Linked DNA regions of Homo sapiens: all the other regions are linked to region 1. The links come from fine-mapping of genetic effects on gene expression. A gene starts in region 1. Each other region holds a variant in brackets. All regions are shown on one strand. Distances are between the middles of the regions.

Region 1 (8,226 bases):
GACTTTGTAGACCTTTTTTTTTTTGATGGAATCTCACTCTGTTGCCCAGGCTGAATACAGTGGCAAGATCTCGGCTCACTGTAACCTCTGCCTCCCAACTTCAAGCAATTCTCCCTCCCTCAGCCTCCCAAAGAGCTGGGATGAAAGGCACCTGCCGCCACATCCAGCTAATTTTTGTATTTTTAGCAGAGATGAGGTTTCGCCATGTTAGCCAGGCTGGTCTCGAACTCCTGACCTCAGATGATACGCCTGCCTGGGCATCCCAAAGTGCTGGGATTACAGGCATGAGCCACCACACCTGGCTGATTTCCTAGACTATTATTAATCACAAAGTGTCATCACAATTTCACCCACAGTGAGAGGCACTATAACATGTAGTTTAGGAAGACAGTCTTTGACATCATCTTCTGCAGTAATTTAACCTTAGTCTTTGGTTTCCCTATCTGTAAAATGGAGACAATTATATACATATCCTCTATTTCACATTTACATTCTTTTCAAATAGGTGTGTTAAAATCAGTATGTATGTTTAATTTTGTAGTTTTCTTCTCCCCCCAAAAGCTATCATTAATACATCTCTTATTCAACAGAACCTCAGAAACAAGTAAAATAGGTAATATAACAATACACCTCAATTTTCTTATCAGTAAAATTGAGGTAATAATTCTATCCAGGTCATAGGGTCTTATGAAGATGAACGGAGATAAAGCACATAAAACTCTTAGCAGTATACCTTCCACAAAGGAAATGCTACATACACACACACACACTCACTCACTCACACTCTCTCTGGCATAAAGTGTGCATAGTGACTAGACCAGAAGAGAATTGGTTTGGTTGGAAGGCCTCTTTCATAAAAGGCTCTTTCATAAAAGATGGAAGAATCTTGCTCTGGCCTTGCTGCTAACTGGTATCTTTTCCTTATACCACGGATTTCTGGCAGGATCTATTAGAATTTGGAGCCCCTGGCAGTTCTACTGTTTTAAGGTTGGTTAGATCTGGCTGAGATGCACTTAACAGCCCTTCTATCAGCTTTTCTCTGTAATCTTCCTCCTACCTTGTCTTCTGGCCTACTCTTGCCTGACACTACTGCCTCTTCACAACACTGCAGAGTTATTAATATTTTTTTAAAGCTCAGTCAGATCATGTCACTGTTCTGTTCGAAACCTCCCAGTGGCTTTCTCTTTCTCCCAGATTAAAAGCCTGAGAAAGGAAGAGGCAGGCCCTGACATCTGAGAGCTGGTCTGACACAGCTAGACTTCAGGGTTGTTAGAAGCTGGCCTGATGCTCACAGCTTGGCCCAGTTATTCTTCTGTGGGACATAATCTCACAGAACACCAACATGAGACAAGGTCAGTCAGACTATAAAAAAGGGACACAACAACAAGGCCATTTCAAAATTGTGTCTAAGCAGAGACAAGAGAGCAAGGTCACTGTGCAAGCCATGAAATACCAAACGTCCTTCTCTGCTATTATGAGTGACTGCTGCTTCTTTACTAGGTATAGCTTTATCCTCACTCTAGTCTGTCCATCTTATAGACAATACTTATTCAGATACCTAGTCACAGAAATGTCCCTGCTTTCTGACAGCACCCAATCCAGGGTGAAGCCTGGCTTTCTTGAGCCCTCCCGCAAATCGCCCAAATTCTATAATAGGTTCTCTCACCCTCACCAAGCTGTCCCAATGGTCCTCCACAACACCTGCTTCCTCACTGCAAGAACTATTAATAATGAACTCAACTTGTTTAAGCACAGGTGTGTTCCTGATGGTCTCTGGCTGGAGGGCAGGGACAGGCCAGAGTCCTTACAATTGTCTACAAAGTCCCACAGTGGTTCTTGGACTTCATCACCCATCAGAATCATCTGGAAGAATTGTTAAAAGAGAATTGCTGGTCCCCAACCCCAGAGCCTGTGATTGAATAAAGCTGGGGTTGAGGTCTTAGCATCTGCATTTCTAACAACTCCCAGCACCTGAGGCTGCAGATCTGGGGCTCACACTAGAAGACTCACTTCTCTAAACCACTTGTTCCCCCGTCTTATTTCCCTGACTTAGCCTCCTTGTCTCCACTCCCATCTTACTTCATTCTACTCCAGCCACACTGGCCTCCTTGCTGTGTTGAGCCTCCCTGGGCACATGCCTTAGGCTACTGCTTTGTCTGCACTCGGATTCGTAACACTTACTCCCTCACCCCTCAGTGAGACCTACCCCAATCTCCCTACCCTTTTCAGAATTTATTCTCCACAACACGTAATCAACCTTCTGACATGCTGAATAATTTACTTATTACATTTATTGTTTTGCTCTCTCTCTGCTAATAAAGGAATGACACCCTTAAGACATCAGCTATCTGAGTGTATTTTGTTCACGGCTGTATCCTGAGACCTGGAAAAATAGCTGGCAAGTAGTAGATGCTCAACAAAAACTTTCTGAATGAATGTTCCTTCCAGCTTTTCAGCTTCTTCTCCTGAGTCAGGGCAGCACTCCCTTCAGATCTTCCTATAAATACAATCTCTCTCCTATATGTCCAACCTCTTGACAATTACAATATCCAGCTCCTGGGACTTTTCGCTTCAGTGGCTCAGGCCAGGGATACAGGGCAGGTAAGTCAGCCATGGGCCAAGGAGATCAAACAACGCCAGAAAATTACTGTATCCTGCATCTCTTCTTCACCCACCTTCTCCAGATGACCTTATCCACCCATCTCCCTCCTCTCTTGTTTTCCAACTATTTGTTCACCTGGATTTCTCCTCTCTTTGACCACCAACATTGTTATGGCACCCCTAAAAAAAATAAAAAAAGCAACCACTCTCCCCGTGCTAAGCCACCCTCATGCTGGGGCTGTCCTATCTCCGCTTCTCCGGCAAGGCTCCTCCTGACTTTGTTTTTCCTTTCTACTCCCTGAAATTTTGCTTCTGAAGTTCCATTACCGCCTCCTTCCTAAATTCAACTGCAATTTTCGGTCTTGCTCTTTCCTGATACACTGTGGAATTTAATACATCTGTCTGGAAACTCTTCAAGAACACCGCGTGTTGCCTCTACCTCCTTTAGTGCTTCTACTCCGGTCCTTCCTAGTCTTCTCTTCATAAGTGTCCCCAAGTTTCCTTCCAGGAAGATGGGTCGTGGTTTCCTTGACGCCAATGCGTTTCTGGCCGTGCCCTCGTCACTTGCCCACTCCGGGGTCACGAAGGAGAGGCCCCGGATTCCGGGCGCAGCCGCGGCTGAGCCCGGGGCGTTGAATGCGGGTGGAATTTCCAGTCTGGGAAGGGGCGGGGCCTTGGACCGCCGGGAAGTTTGGTCCTCAGCGGCTTCCGTCCTGCAGCAAGTCCGGAAGAAGGTCCGGGGGCTGGAGTCCTGGGACCTAGCTCGGGACCGGCCTGGAGATGGAGTTCGACTGCGAGGGCCTGAGACGGCTGCTTGGCAAGGTGCGGGCAGTCCGCTGGGCCAGTTTGGGTCCTCAGGGTCTTGCGGGGGGTGCCTCTGCCTTTGGCCAGGTTGCCTCCGTTTTGCGTTTCCCGGCTTGTAGTGGGGCTTGGAGCCGGGGCGGCTGGTCTGAAACCGGCTATGGGGCGCGGCCCCAGGGAGGCTGAGGGGACCTGGATTCTGATTTCTCCCGCAACTCTGAGGTTTCCCAACCTCCACCTGGTGCGAGCCCTCCTCATACCCCCAGCTTCACTGACCTCAAACAGCTCCCAGCACACGCCTAACCACGCCTTTCTCTCTTTCTCTCTGCTGAAATGGTCTGCCTTTTTTTTCTTTTTTCTTGAATTGCAAAGCTCATCCTTTGTAAGACCCAACTCAGTCACTCCCTGTAAGATTGAATCAACCCTTCTGTTTTGAAAGATATCGATTATCACATTGTGGAGTAATTATGTATTTACAAACCGTAATCTTGCTGTGAGCCCCTTTGACTGCAGACATTGTGCTTTTGTATTCCCTTCCTCTAGCCACTATGTTTGACAACACCATAGGTACTAAGTAACTGTGCAGTGAATGAAAGACCTGAGTAGATTTAGAGATGAAGACAGAGCTTGAAGGCCCTGGAGAGATCTTAATGTTGGAAGGCTGGGGAGTAGGCGGGCCGACCTAGAAATCTGACCTATATTTCTGAGACCTGACTAGCCTGAGTTTCCGGTGTACAATCTGAGGGAATCCCCGCCAATTTTCTAGTTAAGAAGACTAGTTTTCACCAGTTTCCTAGTTAAGGTGGTTTTTTGTTTTTTGTGTTTTTTTTTTTGACAGAGTCTTGCTCTGTCCCCCAGGCTGGAGTGCAGTGGTGCGATCTAGGCTCACTGCAACCTCCACCTCCCGGGTTCAAGCCGATTCTCGTGCCTCAGCCTCCCAAGTAGCTGGGACTACAGGCGCGTGCCACCATGCCTGGCTAATTTTTGTATTTTAGTAGAGATGGGTTTTCACCATGTTGGCCAGTCTGGTCTCGAACTCTTGACCTCAAGTGATCCACTCGCCTGAGCCTCCCAAAGTGGTGGAATTACAGGTATGAACCACCGCACCCGGCCTTAAATAATTCTTAATGCTTCTTAAGACTTCCTAATGCAGAAACCATAGTTTATGCCATTTTTGTTATACTTGCCTCTTTCTTTGTTGGGGCAGTTTACATACCCGTGGGAGGTTTTGAAGTCCTAAGATTGAAATTGTTTATGTAAGTGACTTGAATGAATTTATCTACTGCGACAGGTGCAGATCTTGTAGGAAGAGAAGTATCATAATGCTACCCTTTCTGTCTCCTCTTCAGAGCATGTGAAATTAAAAGAACCATTCAAGTTTTAATGTGCAGAGGATGATGGATTGTCCGATGGGAAGAATTGTTCAAGTTAAGATTCAAACATAGAGCATATTTTTGGTGGCACTGGAATGAAGGAAAAGAAGAGAGACAATGGTTTTTTCAAGGGTGAGAGTAGAATAGTAGAGGATTTTTTTTTCCCCATCAGTGCATAGCATAGAGTCTGGCACATAGGTAGCTTATTATTATTATTACTGTTTGTTTTGAGACGGAGTCTCGCTCTGTCACCCAGGTTGAAGTGCAGTGGCGCGATCTCTGCTCACTGCCATCTCCGCCTCCTGGGTTCAAGCGATTCTCCTGCCTTAGCATCCTGAGTAGCTGGGACTACAGGCGCCCACCACCAAGCCCGGCTAATTTTTTTTGTATTTTTAGTAGCGACGAGGTTTCGTCATATTGGCCAGGCTGGGGTAGCTTATTATTAATAAGTATTTGTTGGCTGTATAAATTAAGGAAACCAATCAGAAACAAGTCAGTGCAGCAAATATATGAAGTTTCCTGACCATTCACTGCAGTCTGCAAATAATATTGTTTAATATCTAGAAATAATTTTAGTCTAGGCACAGTTACTCATGCCTGTAGTCCCCGCTACTTGAGAGGCTGAGGCAGGAGAATAGCTTGAGCCCTGGTGTTTGAGTATGCAGAGAGCTATGATTGTGCCACTGCTTGCCAGCCTGGGAGACAGAACGAGACCGTGTCTCTAAAAAGTAGAAATAAATGTAAGGCCAGGCACGGTAGCTCACGTCTGTAATTCCAGCACTTTGGGAGACCGAGGCGGGTAGATCACCTGCGGCCAGGAGTTCGAGATCGGCCTGTCCAACATGGTGAAACCCCATCTCTACTAAAAATACAAAAAAATAAGCCAGGCGTGGTGGCCCGCTCCTGTAATCCCATCTACTCGGGAGGCTGAAGCAGGAGAATCACTTGAACCTGGGAGGTGGAGGTTACAGTGGCCCAAGATCGTGCCACTGCACTCCAGCCTGGGCAACAGAGGGAGACCCCATCTCAAAAAAATAAAAAAAAATGAATTTAAAATTTTTTAAAACTTAGAAATAATTTTGTTGCAGAAAAAATCGATGGAGAAGTGATCAGTACATTAAAAAATTAAGCAACTATGGAGAAAGTAAAAAATCTAATTAAATAGATATCCCAGTTTCATAGATGTGAAGATTGTCAGTTCTCTCCAAATTTATCTATAGGGTCAATGCATTTCTTGGAAACTTCAAACTGATTCTAAAATTCATTCAGAAGAGCAGAAGGCCAAGGATAACCTTGACATTATTATGGAAAAAAAATAGATATGAGGGCTGGGTGTGGTGGCTTACGCCTCTAATCCCAGCACTTCGGGAGGCCGAGGTGGGCGGATCACTTGAGGTCAGGAGTTCAAGAGCAGCCTGGCCAACATGGTGAAACCTCGTCTCTCCTAAAAAATGTAAAAACTGGGCATGGTGGTGGGCACCTGTAACCCCAGCTACTTGGGAGGCTGAGGCAGGAGAATCGCTTGAACCCAGGAGACAGAGGTTGCAGTGAGCTGAGAATGCGCCACTGCACCCCAGCCTGAGCCACAGAGCAATACTCTGTCTCAAAAAAAAAAAAATAATAATAATAAAGAAGGAAAGAATAGATGATAGATTTGAGGACCTGCTCTACCAAATATCAGTACTACGGCAAGTAAAATTTAGTGTGGCATTGGTGTGGAATAGACTAACCAGTGAAACAGACTAAAGGGCTTAGAATCGTAGTCACACATGTTTGGAAATGCAATATAAAACAGAAGACATTGCAGATAAATGGCGAAAGGAGAATGGAGAGACAAGTGAATATCCACATGAGAAAAATGAAATTGTACCTTGTATCCCTGCCTTACGCCAAACATAAAAATTTCCAGTGGATTAAAGACCTAAATGTAAAAGACAACTTTAAAACCTAAAAAGATAAATGTTATAGGCTCAGAATATGCAAACCGTTTTAAAATAATACACAAATAAGAGACAAATTCAACTGTATTAAAATTAAGAACAGAAGACACCATGAAGAAAGTGAAGAGGCAGCCAGGTGTGGTGGCTCACACCTGTAATCTCAGCACTTTGGGAGGCCAAGACAGGCAGATCTGTTGAGTCCAGGAGTTTGAGACAAGCCTGAACAATATGGCAAGACCCTATCTCAATTTTTTTAAAAAGAAAATTAAAGAAAGTGAAGAGGCAAGATACAAACTTAGAGAAGCTATCTGTAGCACACATAACTGACAAAGTATTGGTATCTAAAATATATAAAGCATGCCTACAAATCAATATTAGAACCAATAAATAGGCCAGGCATGGTGGCACACACCTGTAATCCCAGCACATTAGGAGGCTGAGGCATGCAGATCACGAGGTCAGGAATTCAAGACCAGCCTGGCCAACATAGTGAAACCCTGTCTCTACTAAAAATACAAAAATTAGCCGGGCATCCTGCAATGGGCCTGTAGTCCCAGCTACTCAGGAGGCTGAGACAGGAGAATCGCTTGAACCCGGGAGGTGGAGGTTGTGGTGAGCTGAGATCACGCCACTGCACTCCAGCCTGGGCAACAGAGCAAGACTCCGTCTCAAAAAAACAAAGCAAACAAAAAAGTAAATAGATAATTGGGCAAAAGATATAAATAAGCATTTTTTAAAAACAGGAATAAAATCACTAATCACATTTCAATTGTTAGTAGCCACATGTGGTTTGTGGCTATCATATTGGACAATGTATGTGTAGATTATTTCCATTATGGCAGAAAGCTTTGTCAGACAGTTCTGTATCATAAGTGGGTGGGTCAATTCACCAGTACTTATTATTCTGCAAAAAGCGTGTGCTTTTTCTTTTTTTTAAAGAGACAGAGCCTTGCTCCGTCTCCCAGGCTGGAGTGCAGTGGTACCATCATAGCTTACTGCAGCCTCAAACTCTTGGGCTCAAGTGATCCTCCTGCCTCAGCCTCTGGAGGTAGCTAGGACCACAGGCAACATCACCACATCTGGCCAATTTTTGTTTTTATTTTTGTAGAGACAGTGTCTTGTTGTGTTGCCCAGGCTGGTCTCAAAACTACTGGCCTCAAGTGATCCTTTGTCCTTGACTGTCCAAAAGTCTGGGATTACAGATGTGAGCCACCATGCCCAGCCAATAAGTATATTCCTTCGTTTATATTAAGTGTTACATTTAGAGAAATTACCTAGTTCCCTAATTCCTATTTTCTGCTCCTCCAGCTGAGTTACCTCGGAGAGGCAACTTAACCTAGATTTGCTCACTCATAAAATGGTAATACTGCGGTGGCTCACACCTGTAATCTCAACACTTTGGGAGGCTGAGGTGGGTGGATCACCTGAGGTCAGGAGTTCAAGACCAGCCTGACCAACATGGAGAAACCTCGTCTCTACCAAAAATACAAAATTACCCGGGTGTGGTGGTG
Region 2 (8,274 bases), 70 kb before region 1:
ATGGTACCAGCTCTTCTTTGTATGTCTGGTAGAATTCGGCTGTGAATCTGCCTGATCCTGGACTTTTTTTGGTGGGTGGGCTCTTAATTATTGCCTCAATTTCAGAGCCTGTTATTGGCCTATTCAGGGATTCAACTTCTTCCTCGTTTAGTCTTGGGAGGGTGTATATGTCCAGAAATTTATCCATTTCTTCTAGATTTTCTAGTTTATTTGTGTAGAGGTGTTTATAGTATTCTCTGATGGTAGTTTTTATCTCTGTGGCATCAGTGGTGATATCCCCTTTATCATTTTTTATGTGTCTAATTGATTCTTCTCTCTTTTCTTCTTTATTAGTCTTGCTAGCAGTCTATCAATTTTGTTGATCTTTTCAAAAAACCAGCTCCTGGATTCATTGATTTTTTTGAAGGGTTTTTTGTGTCTCTATCTCCTTCAGTTCTGCTCTGATCTTAGTTATTTCTCGCCTTCTGCTAGCTTTTGAATGTGTTTGCTCTTGCTTCTCTAGTTCTTTTAATTGTGAAGTTAGGGTGTCAATTTTAGATCTTTCCTGCTTTCTCTTGTGGGCATTTAGTGCTATAAATTTCCCTCTACACACTGCTTTAAATGTGTCCCAGAGATTCTGGTATGTTGTGTCTTTGTTCTCCTTGGTTTCAAAGAACATCTTTATTTCTGCCTTCATTTCGTTAAGTACCCAGTAGTCATTCAGGAGCAGGTTGTTCAGTTTCCATGTAATTGAGCACTTTTGAGTGAGTTTCTTAATCCTGAGTTCTAATTTGATTGCAGTGTGGTCTGAGAGACAGTTTGTTATGATTTCTGTTCTTTTACATTTGCTGAGGAGTGCTTTACTTCCAACTATGTGGTCAATTTTGGAATAAGTGCAACGTGGTGCTAAGAAGAATGTATATTCTGTTGATTTGGGGTGGAGAGTTCTGTAGATGTCTATTAGGTCCGCTTGGTACAGAGCTGAGTTCAATTCCTGGATATCCTTGTTAACTTTCTGTCTCGTGGATCTGTCTAATGTTGACAGTGGGGTGTTAAAGTCTCCCATTATTATTGTGTGGGAGTCTAAGTCTCTTTGTAGGTCTCTAAGGACTTGCTTTATGAATCTGGGTGCTCCTGTATTGGGTGCATATATATTTAGGGTAGTTAGCTCTTCTTGTTGAATTGATCCCTTTACCATTATGTAATGGCCTTCTTTGTCTCTTCTGATCTTTGTTGGTTTAAAGTCTGTTTTATCAGAGACTAGGATTGCAACCCCTGCTTTTTTTTGTTTTCCATTTGCTTGGTAGATCTTCCTCCATCCCTTTATTTTGAGCCTATGTGTGTCTCTGCACGTGAGATGGGTCTCCTGAATACAGCACACTGATGGATCTTGACTCTTTATCCAATTTGCCAGTCTATATCTTTTAATTGGAGCATTTAGCCCATTTACATTTAAGGTTAATATTGTTATGTGTGAATTTGATCCTGTCATTATGATGTCAGCTGGGTATTTTGCTGGTTAGTTGATGCAGTTTCTTCCTAGCCTCGATGGTCTTTACAATTTGGCATGTTTTTGCAGTGGCTGGTACCAGTTGTTCCTTTCCATGTTTAGTGCTTCCTTCAGGAGCTCTTGTAAGGCAGGCCTGGTGATGACAAAATCTCTCAGCATTTGCTTGTCTGTGAAGGATTTTATCTCTCCTTCACTTATGAAGCTTCTTTTGGCTGGGTATGAAATTCTGGGTTGAAAATTCTTTTCTTTAAGAATGTTGAATAGTGGCCCCCACTCTCTTCTGGCTTGTAGAGTTTCTGCTGAGAGATCAGCTGTTAGTCTGATGGGCTTCCCTTTGTGGGTAACCCGACCTTTCTCTCTGGCTGCCCTTAACATTTTTTCCTGCATTTCAACTTTGGTGAATCTGACAATTATGTGTCTTGGAGTTGCTCTTCTCAAGGAGTGTCTTTGTGGCGTTCTCTGTATTTCTGAATTTGAATGTTGGCCTGCCTTGCTAGGTTGGGGAAGTTCTCCTGGATAATATCCTGAGGAGTGTTTTCCAACTTGGTTCCATTCTCCCTGTCACTTTCAGGTACACCAATCAGATGTAGATTTGGTCTTTTCACATAGTCCCATATTTCTTGGTGGCTTTGTTCATTTCTTTTTACTCTTTTTTCTCTAAACTTCTCTTCTCGCTTCATTTCATTCATTTGATTTTCAATCACTGATACCCCTTCTTCCATTTGATCGAATCGGCTACTAAAGCTTGTGCATGCATCAGATAGTTCTCGTGCCATGGTTTTCAGCTCCATCAGGTCATTTAAGGTCTTCTCTATGCTGTTTATTCTAGTTAGCCATTCATCCAATCTTTTTTCAAGGTTTTTAGTTTCTTTGCAATGGGTTGGAACATCCTCTTTTAGCTCAGAGAAGTTTATTATTACCGATCTTCTGAAGCCTTCTTCTCTCAACTTGTCAAAGTCATTCTCTGTCCAGCTTTGTTCCATTCCTGGCGAGGAGCTGCATTCCTTTGGAGGAGAAGAGGCATTCTGATGTTTAGAATTTTCAGCTTTTCTGCTCTGGTTTCTCCCCATCTTTGCGGTTTTATCTACCTTTGGTTTTTGATGATGGTGACGTACAGATGGGATTTTGGTGTGAATGTCCTTTCTGTTTGTTAGTTTTCCTTCTAACAGTCAGGTCCCTCAGCTGCAGGTCTGTTGGAGTTTGCTGGAGGTCCACAGCAGACCCTGTTTGCCTGGGTATCACCAGCAGAGGCTGCAGAACTGCAAATATTTCTGCCTGATCCTTCCTCTGGAAGCTTCGTCTTAGAGGGGCACCTGGCCGTATGAGGTGTCAGTCGGCCCCTACTGGGAGGTGCCTCCCAGTTAGGCTACCCACTTGAGGAGGCAGTCTGTCCATTCTCAGATCTCAAACTCTGTGCTGGGAGAACCACTACTCTCTTCAAAGCTGTCAGACAGGGACATTTAAGCCTGCAGAAGTTTCTGCTGCCTTTTGTTCAGCTATGCTCTGCCCCCAGAGGTGGAGTCTAAAGAGGCAGGCAGGCCTCCTTGAGCTGCAGTGGGCTCCACCCAGTTCGAGCTTCCCGGTGGCTTCGTTTACCTACTCAAGCCTCAGCAGTGGCGGGTGCCCCTCCCCGAGCCTCGCTGCCGCCTTGCAGTTCGATCTCAGACTGCTGTGCTAGCAGTGAGCAAGGCTCTGTGGGCGTGGGACCCTCTGAGCCATGCGCGGGATATAATCTCCTGGTGTGCCGTTTGCTAAGACCATTGGAAAAACATGGTATTAGGGTGGGAGTGACCGGATTTTCCAGGTGCCATCTGTCATGGCTTCCCTTGGCTAGGAAAGGGAATTCCCCAACCCCTTGCGCTTCCTGGGTGAGGCATCACCTCGCCCTGCTTCGGCTCACAGTCTGTGGGCTGCACCCACTGTCTTGCACCCACTGTCTGACAAGCCCCAGTGAGATGAACCCAGTACCTCAGTTGGAAATGCAGAAATCACCTGTCTTCTGCGTTGCTCATGCTGGGAGCTGTAGACTGGAGCTGTTCCTATTTGGCCATCTTGGAACCAATCAATCTGAATTTTTAAGAATAATTTGGTGGGTAGAGGCTCGGGAAGTGGCGAATGCTAATTGGTCAGGTTGGAGATGAAATCATAGAGAGCTGAAGCTGTCCTCTTGCAGTAAGTCAGTTCCTGGGTGGGGGCCACAAGACCTGATGAGCCATTTTATTGATCTGGGTGGTGTCAGCTGATCCATCGAGTACAGGATCTGCAGACTATCTCAAGCACTGATCTTAGGTTTTAC[T/C]GTAACCTAAGATAATACCCCCAGGAGCAATTTGGGGAGGTTTAGAATCTTGCAGCCTCCAGCTATTGGACTCCAAAGCTATAATTTCTAATCTTGTGGCTAATTTGTTAGTCCTGCAAAGGCAGTCTAATCACCTGGCAGGAAGAGGATTTATTTTGGGAAAGGGCTGTTATTGTCTTTGTCTTAAAGTTAACCTATAAACTAAGTTCCTCACAAAGTTAGTTCAGCCTACGCCTAGAAATGAACATGGACAGCTTGGAGGTTAGAAGCAAGAAAGAGTCAGTTAGGTCAGATCTCTTTCACTGTCATAATTTTCTCAGTTATAATTTGTACAAAGGTAGTTTCAGTGATGAGAATGTCAGAGACATATTTTGAACCAGAGCAACTCCATCTTGAATAGGGGCTAGGCTGCATTCCCAGGTGTTAGGTATGCTTAGTCACAGGAGGAGATAGGAGGTTGGCACAAGATACAGGTCACAAAAACCTTGCTGATAAAACAGGATGCCATAAAGAAGCCAGCCAACACCCGCCAAAACCAAGATGATGATGAAAGTGACCTCTGGTTGTTCTCACTGCTAATTATACACAAATTGTAATACATTAGCATGCTAAAAGACACTCTCACCAGACCCATGACAGTTTACAAATGCCATGGCAACATCCGGAAGTTACCCTATATAGTCTAAAGAGAGGAGGAACCCTTGGTTCCCGGAAATCCCTGCCCCTTTCCCGGAAAATACATGAATAATTCATCCCTCGTTTAGCATACAATCAAGAAGTAACTATAAGTGTACTCAGCTGAGCAGCCCATGCCACTGTTCTGCCAAAGGAGGAGCCATTCTTTTATTCCTTTACTTTCTTAATAAACTTGTTTTCACTTTACTCTATGGACTCACCCTGAATTCTTTCTTGCACATGGTCCAAGAACCCTCTCTTGGGGTCTGGATTGGGACCCGTTCCAGTAACAAGAAGACCTAAGTGAGACAGGGAGATGTCTTTATATGGTGATGGGGAAGGGTATAGGAAGTACAGAAGACAGAAGAGGGGACAGCCAGAGCAGGTGGCTTCAGAGCACAGCTCCTGGAGCAAAGAAAGGATGGAAGGAGGCAGAGGGAGGTTTTTGACCCAAGAGAAGTAAGAATTTTTCAGTGGTGAGAAAAGGAAACTTTTGGCCAGGTGTAGTCTCACATCTGTAATCCCAGCACTTCAGGAGGCTGAGGCAGGAGGATCTCTTGAGCCCAGGAGTTTGAGATTGGTTTGGGCAACATAGCAAGATCCCATCTCTACTAAAAATAAAAAAAATACACCAGGCACGATGGCTCACACCTGTAAATCCCAGCATTTTCAGAGGCCAAGGCAGGTACATCACCTAAGGTCAGCAGTTCGAGACCAGCCTGATGAATATGGTGAAACCCCACCTCTACTAAAATTACAAAAATTAGCCGGGCATAGTGGGGTGCACCTATAGTCCCAACTACTTGGGAGGCTGAGGCAGGAGAATCGCATGAACCTGGGAGGCAGAGGTTGCAGTGAGCCAAGATCGTGCCACTGCACTCCAGCCTGGGCAACAGAGTAAGACTGTGTCTCAAAAAAAATAAAATAAAATAAAATAAATGGCTGGGCACAGTGTCTCATGCCATAATCCCAGTACTTTGGGAGGCCGAGCAGCTGGCAGATCACCTGAGGTCAGGAGTTCAAGACCAGCCTGGCCAACATGGTGAAACTCGGTCTCTACTAAAAATAAAAAAAATGGCCAGGCATGTCTGGGTGTGGTGGCTCATGCCTGTAATCTCCAGCACTTTGGGAGGCCGAGGCAGGTGGATCACGAGGTCAAGAGATCGAGACCATCCTGGCTAACACGGTGAAACCCTGTCTCTACTAAAAATAGAAAAAATAGTCAGGCATGGTAGCGGGCACCTGTAGTCCCAGCTACTCAGGAGGCTGAGGCAGGAGAATGGTGTGAACCCAGGAGGCGGAACTTGCAGTGAGCTGAGATCATGCCACTGCACTCCAGCCTGGGCAACAGAGCAAGACTCTGTCTCAAAAAAAAAAAAAAAAAAAATTGGCCGGGCATGATGGCAGATGCCTGTAGTCCCAGCTACTTGGGAGGTTGAGGCAGGGGAATAGCTTGAACCCAGGAGGTAGAGGTTGCAGTGAGCCAAGATCCCACCACTGCACTCCAGCCTGGGCAACAGAGGGAGACTCTGTCTCAAAAAAAAAAAAAAAAAAAAAGGTGGTGGGGGGGCCAGGTGAGGTGGTTTACACCTGTAATCCCAGCACTTTGGGAGGCCGAGGCGGGAGGATCACGAGGTTAGGAGTTCAAGACCAGCCTGTCCAACATGGTGATACCCCATCTCTACTAAAATACAAAAAATTAGCCAGGCATGGTGGTGCATGCATGTCATCCCAGCTACTCGGGAGGCTGAGGCAGGAGAATCACTTGAACTCAGGAGGCAGAGGTTGTGGTGAACAGAGATCATGCCACTACACTCCAGGCTGGGCGACAGAGCAAGTCTCCATCTCAAAAAAAAAAAATTAAAAAAATTAGTCTGGCATGGTGGCGTATGCCTGTAGTCCCAGCAATCGGGAGGTTTAGGTGAAGAAAAAGAAAAGACACTTTCATCCTTGGGGTTGTTTGAGCACAGAGCCAAGTGATCACATGTCAGAGCTTCTCACAGTCCTTTTTTTTTTTGGATTTTTAGTGAAGATGGGGTTTCACCATGTTGGCCAGGCTGGTCTCAAACTCTTAACCTCAGGCGATCTGCCCAAAGTGCTGGGATTACAGGCATGAGCTACCGTTCCCGGCTTTCTCAAAATCCTTAAACCCAAAAGTCTATGATTCTTATTTTAAAATTCCAGGTGCTTCTCTTTCTAGGCTGGAGAGATATTCCCCTAAAGTCAATTCAGGTTCATAGTTGAATTCCTGTCTACGGATTCTAGGAAGGCAGCAGAATAAGGATCTTTGAGGTTTAAAAGCCTTTTTTCTTTGCTTTCTCTTCTTTTAAAAAAGGGAGGGGGGCTGGATGTGGTGGCTCATATCTGTAATCCCAGCACTTTGGAAGGCCAAGGCAGGTGGGTCACTTGAGCTCAGGAGTTCAAGACCAGCCTGGGCAACATGGTGAAACCCCATCTCTACAAAAAAAATACAAAAATTAGCCAGGCATGGTGGTGCATGCCTGCAGTCCCAGCTACTTGGGAAGCTGAGGTGGTAGGATCACCTGAGCTGGGAGAGTTTGAGGCTACAGTGAACTAAGACTATACACCACTGCACTCAAGCCTGGGTGACAGAGCAAGACTCTGCCTCAAAAAAAAAAAAAAAAGAAAAGAAAGAAAAAAGGGAAAAAAAAGAAAAGAAAGCATGGTTAATACAAGTTGAAACATAGTAGTTAACTAGCAGTTGCCTGGCGCAGTGGCTCACAACTAATCCCAGCCTTTTGGGAGGCCGAGGCGGGCAGATCACGAGGTCAGGAGATCGAGACCATCCTGGCTAACACGGTGAAACCCCATCTCTAGTACAAATATAAAAAATTAGCCAGGCATGGTGGCAGGTGCCTGTAGTCCCAGCTACTTGGGAGGTTGAGGCAGGAGAATGGCGTGAACCCCGGAGGCAGAGCTCACAGTGAGCCAAGATCGTGCCACTGCACTCCAGCTTGGGTGACAGAGCGAGACTCCATCTAAAAAAAAATAAAAAGTAGTTAATGCTGCATGGTTTGGAGTCAGACTCTGCCTAGATCCAAATCCTTGCTCTTCGGCTGTGTGACTTTGAGCCAGTTGCTTAACATCCCTGTACCTTGATTTTCTTAATCAAGAAAGATTAAGATTTTCTTAATCAAGAGAGAAATAATTCTAGCCTCAAAAATTGCAAGGTTTTTTTTGTTTGTTTTTCTGTTTTTGAGATGGAGTCTCACTCTTGTCGCCCAGGCTGGAGTGCAATGGCGTGATCTCAGCTCACTGCAACCTCCACCTCCCGGGTTCAAGTGATTCTCCTGCCTCAGCCTCCTGAGTAGTGGGATTACAGGAGTCTTGCACCACACCCAGCTAATTTTTGTATTTTTAGTAGAGATGGGGTCTCGCCACATTGGCCAGACTGGTCTTGAACTCCTGACCTCAGGTGATCCACCCACCTCAGCCTCCTAAAGTGCTGGGATTACAGGCATGAGCCACCACGCATGGCTATAAATTGCAAGTATCAAATGAACTAAAATGTAAAGTCCTTAGAACCTTCTAAGGTTTACCCATATTGAACACTCAATAAATGTTTGCTCTCATTAAAAATAAGGGAGGAGCCGGGTGTGGTAGCTCACGCCTGTAATCCCAGCACTTTGGGAGGCCGAAGTGGGTGGATCACAAAGTCAGGAGTTTGAGACCAGCCTGATATGGCGAAACCCCATCTCTACTAAAAATACAAAAATTAGCCAAGCATGGTGGTGGGCACCTGTAGTCCTGGCTACTTGGGAGGCCGAGGCAGGAGAATCGCTTGAACCCGGTA
Region 3 (8,000 bases), 120 kb after region 1:
CCTCTGCCTCCTGGGTTCAAGCGATTCTCTTGCCTCAGCCTCCCAAGTAGCTAGGATTACAGGTGTGCACCACCATGCCCAGCTAATTTTTGTATTTTTAGTAAAGATGGGATTTTGCCATGTTGGCCAGGCTGGTCTTGAACTCCTCACCTCAGGTGATCCACCTGGCTCAGCTCCCAAAGTGCTGGGATTCCAGGTGTGAGCCACCACGCCTGACCCAAAATAATCTTAAAGAATAGTCAGAAGACTTAATACATCCTGATTTCAAAACTTACCACAAAGCTACAGTAATCAACATATTTATAAATACTACTATGGAGTTGAGCTTCATGATATATTAAGTTAAAAATGAAAGAAGATGGAGAAAAACGTATGTAGTAACAAAAAGCTGTAAACCATAAAAAGTGTAAATGGTTACCTATAAAAGGATGGAGGCTATAGGGGAAAGGGCACAGGGACAGAAGCTGGACCACTTTGAATAATTCCTGTTCTCTAGAATTGATGTTGGAGCCATGTGAATATTTTATAAAACTGTGAAACAAAAGTTAAATAGTTCTTCAGCATCGAAATTAAAATGAATAAACTTAATCATGCACTCACTGTTGGTCTGCACAGAGAAAAACTACTCCAAATAATTTTAGAATACAGTAATTTGAATATCCCTAAACTACTAAGCTCCAGACTCATAATCTCTAGCTGTTTGACATTTCCTCTTGAGTATCATTTCAGGTATCTTGATTTTTCCCCTCTATATGTAACATCCCTGCCTCCTTCCCTCACTGACTCCCACCCGATCAGTAAATTTACCAACCCAGTTAAATGGAACTACCATCCCTTCAGTTACTCAAAGGAAAAACTCTCGAAGTTATTTTTTATTCCTCCCTTTCTCTCACTAGACATAATCTATCAGCAGTCCTGCACATTTTATCTCCGAAGTCTATTTTCAGTTTGTCCACCTTGTAAATGCACCAGTGAGGAGTCTAGTACAATTTTGGAGAGTCAGGCAGTAAACTATAGCCCTACTTTCACTTCTCAAACAGTAATTTGGAAAACAAACCTCAGCCTTTAGAATATAAACCTTGAACTCATATGATTAAGCATATTATCTTCCCATACACACTACTTTTTTTTTTTTTTTTTTTTGAGACAGGGTCTCACTGTGACCCAGGCTGGAGTGCAGTGGCGCAATCATGGCTCACTGCAGCCTTGACCTCCCTGGCTGAAGCAATCCTCCCGCCTCAGCCTCCTGAGTAGCTGGGACTACAGGAATGCTCCACCATGCCCTGATAATTTTTGTATTTTTTTGTAGAGATGGAGTTCTGTCATGTTGCCCAGGCCATTCTCAAACTCCTGGATTCAAGCACTTCACCCACCTTGGGCTCCCAAAGTGCTGGGATTACAGGCTTCAGCCACTGCATCTGGCCTCACACTAGTATTTTTTAAAGTCATTATAGTATATACACTGATTACCACTGTGCAAAGTACATATTACACTAACAAAACAGAGATTCTGGAATTATACTGGTGGTTTACGATTTAATATTCATTAAATTCTTTTTCTCCTCAAAGTTACTAAACCCACCCCCAAAAACTCCTTCACTGAACAGTGAAAATAAAGCTGTCCTATGCAGCCATAAAAAACAAAATCATGTCCTTTGCAGCAACATGGATGCAGCTGGAGATCATTATTCCAAGCTAATTAATGCAGGAACAGAAAACCAAATACATGTTCTCACTATAAGTGGGAGCTAAACATGTGGGTGCACATGGACATAAAGATGGGAACAAATGACACTGGAGACTACTAGAGAGGGAGGGAGTGAGAGCAGCAAGGGCTGAAAAACTATTAGGTACTTTGCTCAGTACCTGGGTGGCAGGATCAATCCTACCCCAAACCTCAGCATCACACAGTATACTCATGTAATGAACCTACACAGTGTACCCCCGAATCTAAAAGTTGAAAATTTAAAACAACAAAGCTGACCTGGATTAGTAACAATAAGCAGTTTGCAGTGAGGACTGTACTGGGTAATATTGGGAATCATTAATTTAAAGATGGATACATTTCGCTGGACTAAATCAAGGCGTGTTTCTCCTTTTTTCTGGCGTGCACCTGCTGTGATAATCACTAGATTGGAGTTTGCAGTGACCAGGTAATCTGAGGAAAGATTAGAATAAACAATCGATTATGAAAGAAAACATCTGGCATTTAAGTATACTTCCTGTTCACTTCAATCACCACACTATGTTTACCAAAGAGTGGGTTCCCTTAAATCTTCTAGTATGCCTAGACTACTTTTTAATTTCAGGAAATTAGCACTAAGTTTCCCTTGTACATTTTTTTTAATAATAAAAAAAAAAAAAAAAACGTAAGTCATGTGCAGTGGCTCACCCCTGTAATCCCAGCACTTTGGGAGGTCGAGGTGGGTCCATCAAATGAGGTTAGGAGTTCAGGACCAGACTGGCCAACATGGCAAAACCCCATCTCTACTAAAAATACAAAAATTAGCCAGGCACAGTGGCGGATGCCTGTAGTCCCAGCTACAAGGGAGACTGAGGCAGGAGAATCACTTGAACATGGAGGCAGTGAGCCAAGATCACACCACGACACTCCAACCTGGGTGACAGAGCGAGACTCCGTTTCCAAAAACAAAAACCTCCTAAATTGGGTACAGTAGTGCACTCCTATAGTCCCAGTTACTTGGAGGCTGAGACCAAGAGGATCACACACGAGCCCAGAAGTCCAAGTCCAGCCTGCACCAACATAGCAAGACACTGTCTCAAAAACAAACCAAAACAAAACAAAACAAAAAAAAACAAAAAAAACACCTCACCTCCTAAAATACCTTTTGTATTATTTAGATGAAGAGGTCAAAATATGGATTACTCTGGCAAGAATATTTAGAGATAGATGTGGTGTGAACAGACCTTTGAATAGCAAATTGTTGGTTCATTCGTTTGTTCAAATAATTATCTCCCAGGTGCCAAGTGAATAAAGTACAGTAGTGAAGAGCTTAGGCTTTGGAATCAAACAGAACTGAGTTCAAATCCCTACTCCATCACTTTTTTTTTTTTTTTTGAGACAGAGTTTCACTCTTGTTGCCCAGGCTAGAATGCAATGGCACGATCTTGGCTCACCACAACCTCCACCTCCCAGGTTCAAGCGATTCTCCTGCCTCAGCCTCCTGAGTAGCTGGGGTTACAGGCATGCACCACCACGCCCGGCTAATTTTTATGTTTTTAATAGAGACAGGGTTTCTGTATGTTAGTCAGGCTGGTCTCGAACTCCCAACCTCAGGTGATCCACCTGCCTTGGCCTCCCAAAGTTCTGGGATTACAGGCATGAGCCACCATGCCTGGTCCTATCACTTTTAATTAACCTTAGTTCAGAGGTACATCATCTCTAAAATAGAGTTGTGCTCAGGATTAAATTATATAAAGTGCTTGGGTCAATGTCTCACACACAATAGGCAGTCAGTTCATTGTAGCTGTCATGATAACTGCTGTTACTGCTGCTCACAAGGAACTCAGTCTGGTGCCGTGGGAAACCTTGCAAAGTACAACCCAAGGAATCTGAACACGTTATGAGAGTACAGAGTAGGGAGCAACCAGCCTTATCTATAAAAACTGGGGAGGTCAAAAGAAA[TAAAG/G]ATGATTTTCTTAGATACTTGTTCATGTATATTAGAATATTTATAGTATTTAACTATGACATTAACCTTTGCTGGAGACAATATTTGGCATTTTCATAAAAGGGCTGCCATGTTGAAGATCCATTGTCTCACCCTTCAGTTTGCCTTCATCAACATCCACAAGGACAAGTTCATCACTCAAACCCTGAAAAACATTGTTAGTCCAATGGGTGTGAGTGTATCTCTTGATTAACTGGAGAATGAAAGAAAATTCTTATATTGGTGATCTATGTCTAGCTTGTGAATTATCAAAATCAAAGGAAACATAATAAATGATCTCATCATTTTGTCATGATATAAAAGTCTAAACCAGAAAAAATACAAATTACAAAGAGGAGCATTTCAGCTCATCATGAGGAAAACAAAAACAGAAACTGCTTAGTAAATAGAACAATCTCTGAAAGTAGTGAACACCCCGATTTTCAATTTCAGCTGAGGCTGCACAGTGATAAAGTAGTGCTTCTGCTGAAGGAATTTCTCACCAGACCTTGAGCTTCTTGAGACTAGGAAGTCATTCATCCCCAGCCATCTGGTGCTTACTTATCATCCACCTGGCACAGAGGAGCTCAGTAAAAGTTTTTTGAATAAATGGTATCTTAGTCCATTTTCTGTTCCTTATAACAGAATACATGAAACTGAGTACCTTATAAAGAAAAGGAATTTATTTCTTACAGTTATGGAGGCTGAGAAGTCCAAGGTCAGGGGGCCGCCATATGGTGAGGGCTTTCTTGCTGGAGGAGACTCTGCAGAGTCCCAAGGCAGCACAGGGCATCACATGGCAAGGAGGCTGCGATTGCTAAATTCAGGTCTGTCTTCCTCTTCTTATAAAGCTACCATTCCCACTCCCCTGATAACCCATTCATCCATAGATTAATCCATGGCAGAGCCCTCATGACCCAGTCAACTCTTAAAGGCCCCACCTCTCAATACTGCCACATTGAGGATTAAATTTAAACGAGTTCCAGAGGGGACAAACATTCAAACCACAGCAAATGGATTAAAATATAGGGCTCCTTCCAACTCAAAAATATTTTAGTTCTATAATCAGACAGTTATTACCTACAGAAATCAATTCATACTATAATTTCTATGATGCTACTTTATATGTAAGAAAGGAGAGAAAATATACTTCTATTTGAAAAAAAAAAAACACTAGAAATACAAGAAACTGATTCAAATAATTGCCTAAAGTGGATGCTAAGGAAAGATTGGATGGAAACCAGTATGACTTCTCCATGTATGTTTTTTTGTTTTTGTTTTTGTTTTTTTTTGAGATGGAGTCTCTTGCTCTGTTCCCCAGGCTGGAGTGCAGTGGTGCAATCTCGGCTCACTGCCACCTCCGCTTCCTGGGTTCTAGTGATTCTCCTGCCTCAGCTTCCTGAGTAGCTGGGATTACAGGCATGCACCACCATGCCCAGCTAATTTTTGGGTTTTTTTTGTTTTTTTTTTTGTTTGTTTGTTTGTTTTTTGAGACAGAGTCTTGCTCTGTTGCCCAGGCTGGAGTGCAGTGGCGTGATCTCGGCTCACTGCAAGCTCCGCCTCCCAGGTTCACGCCATTCTCCTGCCTCAGCCTCCCGAGTAGCTGGGACTACAGGCGCCCGCCACCACACCTGGCTAATTTTTTGTATTTTTAGTAGAGACGGGGTTTCACCGTGTTAGCCAGGATGGTCTTGATCTCCTGACCTAGTGATCCGCCCGCCTCTGCCTCCCAAAGTGCTGGGATTACAGGCATGAGACACCGCACCCGGCCAATTTTTTTGTATTTTTAGTAGAGACAGGGTTTCACCATGTTGGCCAGGCTGGTCTCAAACTCCTGACTTCAAGTGATCCACCTGCCCCGGTCTCTCAAAGTGATGGGATTACAGGCACAAGCCTTAATCCGCGCCCGGCCTTGTATGTATCTTTCTGAATTTTACTTTTACTTTTTGTTTCTGAGACAGGGGCTTGCTCTGTCCCCCAGGTAGGAGTACAGTAGCATGATCATGACTCATTGCAGCCTCAACTTTCTCAGGCTCAGATGATCCTCCCACCTCAGCCTTCTGGGTAGCTGGGACAACAGGCGCCTACCACCACATCACAGGAGCCTGCCACCACATCTGGCTAATTTTTGTATTTTTTGTAGACATGGGGTTTCACCATGTTGCCCAGGCTGGTCTCAAAGTCCAGGACTCAAGTGATCCGCCTGCCTCAGCCTACCAAAGTTACAAGCGTGAGCCCATGCCCAGCCTAGTTTTTTTTTTTTTTTCTTTTTTTTGAGACGGAATCTTGCTCGTTGCCCAGGCTGGAGTGCAGTGGCACTATCTCGGCTCACTGCAACCCACACCTTCCCGGGTTCAAGCGATTTTCCTGCCTCAGCCTCCTGAGTAGCTGGGATTACAGGCGCCTGCCACCATGCCCGGCTAATTTTTTGTGTGTTTTTAGTAGAGACGGGGTTTCACCATGTTGGCCAGGCTGGTCTCAAACTCCTAACCTCATGATTTGCCTGCCATGGCCTCCCAAAGTACTGGGATTACAGGCTTGAGCCACCGCACCCAGCCTTACTTTCAAATCTTGTAAATGTATTACCTTTTAACTACATATTCTTTTTATCTTTATTACATAATAAATTTTTCCTTGGAGGAAAAATAACGCCTTTGTGTTAGTGCTTAGAAGTAAATGATCAAGGTGGGACATGGTGGCTCACGCCTATAATCCCAGCACTTTGGGAGGCCAAGGTGGGCGGATCATGAGCTCAGGAGTTCGAGACCAACCTGGCCAATATGGTGAAACCCTGTCTCTACTAAAAATACAAAAATTAGCCGGGCGTGTTGGCATGCACCTGTAGTCCCAGCTACTCGGGAAGCTGAGGCAGATGAATCGCTTGAACCCAGGAGGCAGAGGTTGAAGTGAGCCATGATCGCGCCACTGCACTCCAGCCTGGGCAACAGAGCGAGATTCTGTCTCAAAAAAAAAACAAGTAAATGACCAAGGCCGGGCGCGGTGGCTCACGCATGTAATCCCAGCACTTTGGGAGGCCAAGGCGGGCGGATCACCTGGGGTCAGGAGTTCCAGACCAGCCTGGCCAACATCGTGAAATCCTGTCTCTACTAAAAATACAAAAATTAGCTGGGCATGGGGGCACATGCCTGTAATCCCAGCTACTTGGGAGGCTGAGGCAGGAGAATCACTTGAACCCGGGAGGCGGAGGTTGCTGTGAGCTATCAGATTGACCATTGCACTGCAGCCTGTGCAACAGAGTGAGACTCCCTCTCAGAAAAAAAAGAAAAGGAAAGAAATAACCAAGCATCCATAATTTAAGCACATATCCAATTCACATTGTTAGTGCTTTTTACCTTTTTTCTTTTTTGAGACAGGGTCTCACTTTGTCACCCAAGCTGGAGTACAGTGGCACATTCATGGCTCACTGCAGCATTAATCTCTTGGTCTCAGGCAAGCTTCCTGCCTCAGCCTCCCAAGTAGCTAGTACTACTAGCATGTACCACCGCACCTGGCATTTTTTTTTTTTTTTTTTGAGACGGAGTTTCTGCTCTTGTTGCCCAGGGTGGAGTGCAATGGTGCGATCTTGGCTGACTGCAACCTCTGCCTCCCGGGTTCAAGCGATTCTCCTGCCTTAGCCTCCCAAGTAGCTGGGATTACAGATGCATGCCACCGTGCCCAGCTAGTTTTTTATATTTTTAGTAGAGATGGGGTTTCACCATGTTAGCCAGGCTGGTCTCAAACTCCTGACCTCAGGTGATCCACCCGCCTTGGCCTCCCAAAGTGCTGGGATTACAGGTGTGAGCCACCGTGCCCGGCCACCTAGCCAATTTTTAATTTTTATTCATTTATTTATATTTTAGAGACAGGGTCTTGCTTTGTTGCCTAGGCTGGTCTCAAACTCCTAGGCTCAAGTGATACTACTGCCTTGGTCTCCCAAAGTGCAGGATTACAGGCATGAGCCACTGCCTGGATCCAGCCTGGATCTTTTTACTCTATTCGAATTACTGGAAATTCAAAGCCAAGCGCTTTACATTTTAAACTAGACTGTACAACTGATCAACCTAGAAGTCTAAGCTGCATTACAAGCAGCCAGGTAACTGAGGTCAACATCAACACTGATAAATCATGACAGTATGTAGCCGGGATATGATGTGATGAAAAGTGGCACTTTATTCCTATGTCTTCCTCCCCAAAACCCAAAACCTCGGTCTCACCATCAAAAAAAACCCCACCAAATTCCAAGAGAAAGGTGTTCTACAAAATACTTGACTAGTACTCCTCAGAATGCTCAGTCATCAAAAACAAGAAAAATCTAAAGAAACTGTCATAGCC

Alleles and levels. Positions count from the first base shown, and alleles are read on the strand shown. Sizes are in standard deviations (SD) of each study's normalised expression. Not every link is listed here.
For the expression in monocytes after Pam3CSK4 of the gene that starts at base 3,302 in region 1, TAAAG is the high allele of the variant in region 3 and G is the other (large effect, 1.8 SD a copy in Quach 2016).

What was found. PIP is the estimated chance that this variant, and not a neighbour inherited with it, causes the effect.
Region 2: its variant is the best candidate, but not a certain one, in a credible set for the expression of UEVLD in blood mononuclear cells (TOPMed, PIP 0.62).
Region 3: its variant is the best candidate, but not a certain one, in a credible set for the expression of UEVLD in monocytes after Pam3CSK4 (Quach 2016, PIP 0.55).

What each region holds. Positions count from the first base shown.
Region 1 is chr11:18,583,810-18,592,035 of GRCh38, reverse strand. UEVLD (UEV and lactate/malate dehyrogenase domains) reads left to right here and starts at 3,302. Exons shown (of 12, transcript NM_001040697.4): 1 at 3,302-3,423. The coding sequence starts at 3,382. It overlaps LOC112268073 (a long non-coding RNA gene), which reads left to right. Exons shown (of 4, transcript XR_002957242.2): 3 at 1,195-1,500; 4 at 1,756-1,943. RefSeq lists enhancers at 3,185-3,234, 3,140-3,434, 3,495-3,554, 3,595-3,744, 4,145-4,254.
Region 2 is chr11:18,654,072-18,662,345 of GRCh38, reverse strand. No RefSeq gene overlaps it. Among named protein-coding and RNA genes, the nearest start is that of SPTY2D1, 24 kb to the right of the region's middle. The variant T/C (reference allele first, on the strand shown) is at 3,786.
Region 3 is chr11:18,459,795-18,467,794 of GRCh38, reverse strand. LDHAL6A (lactate dehydrogenase A like 6A) reads right to left here. Exons shown (of 7, transcript NM_144972.5): 2 at 3,717-3,834; 3 at 1,985-2,158. Among named protein-coding and RNA genes, the nearest start is that of LDHAL6A, 7.9 kb to the right of the region's middle. The variant TAAAG/G (reference allele first, on the strand shown) is at 3,647.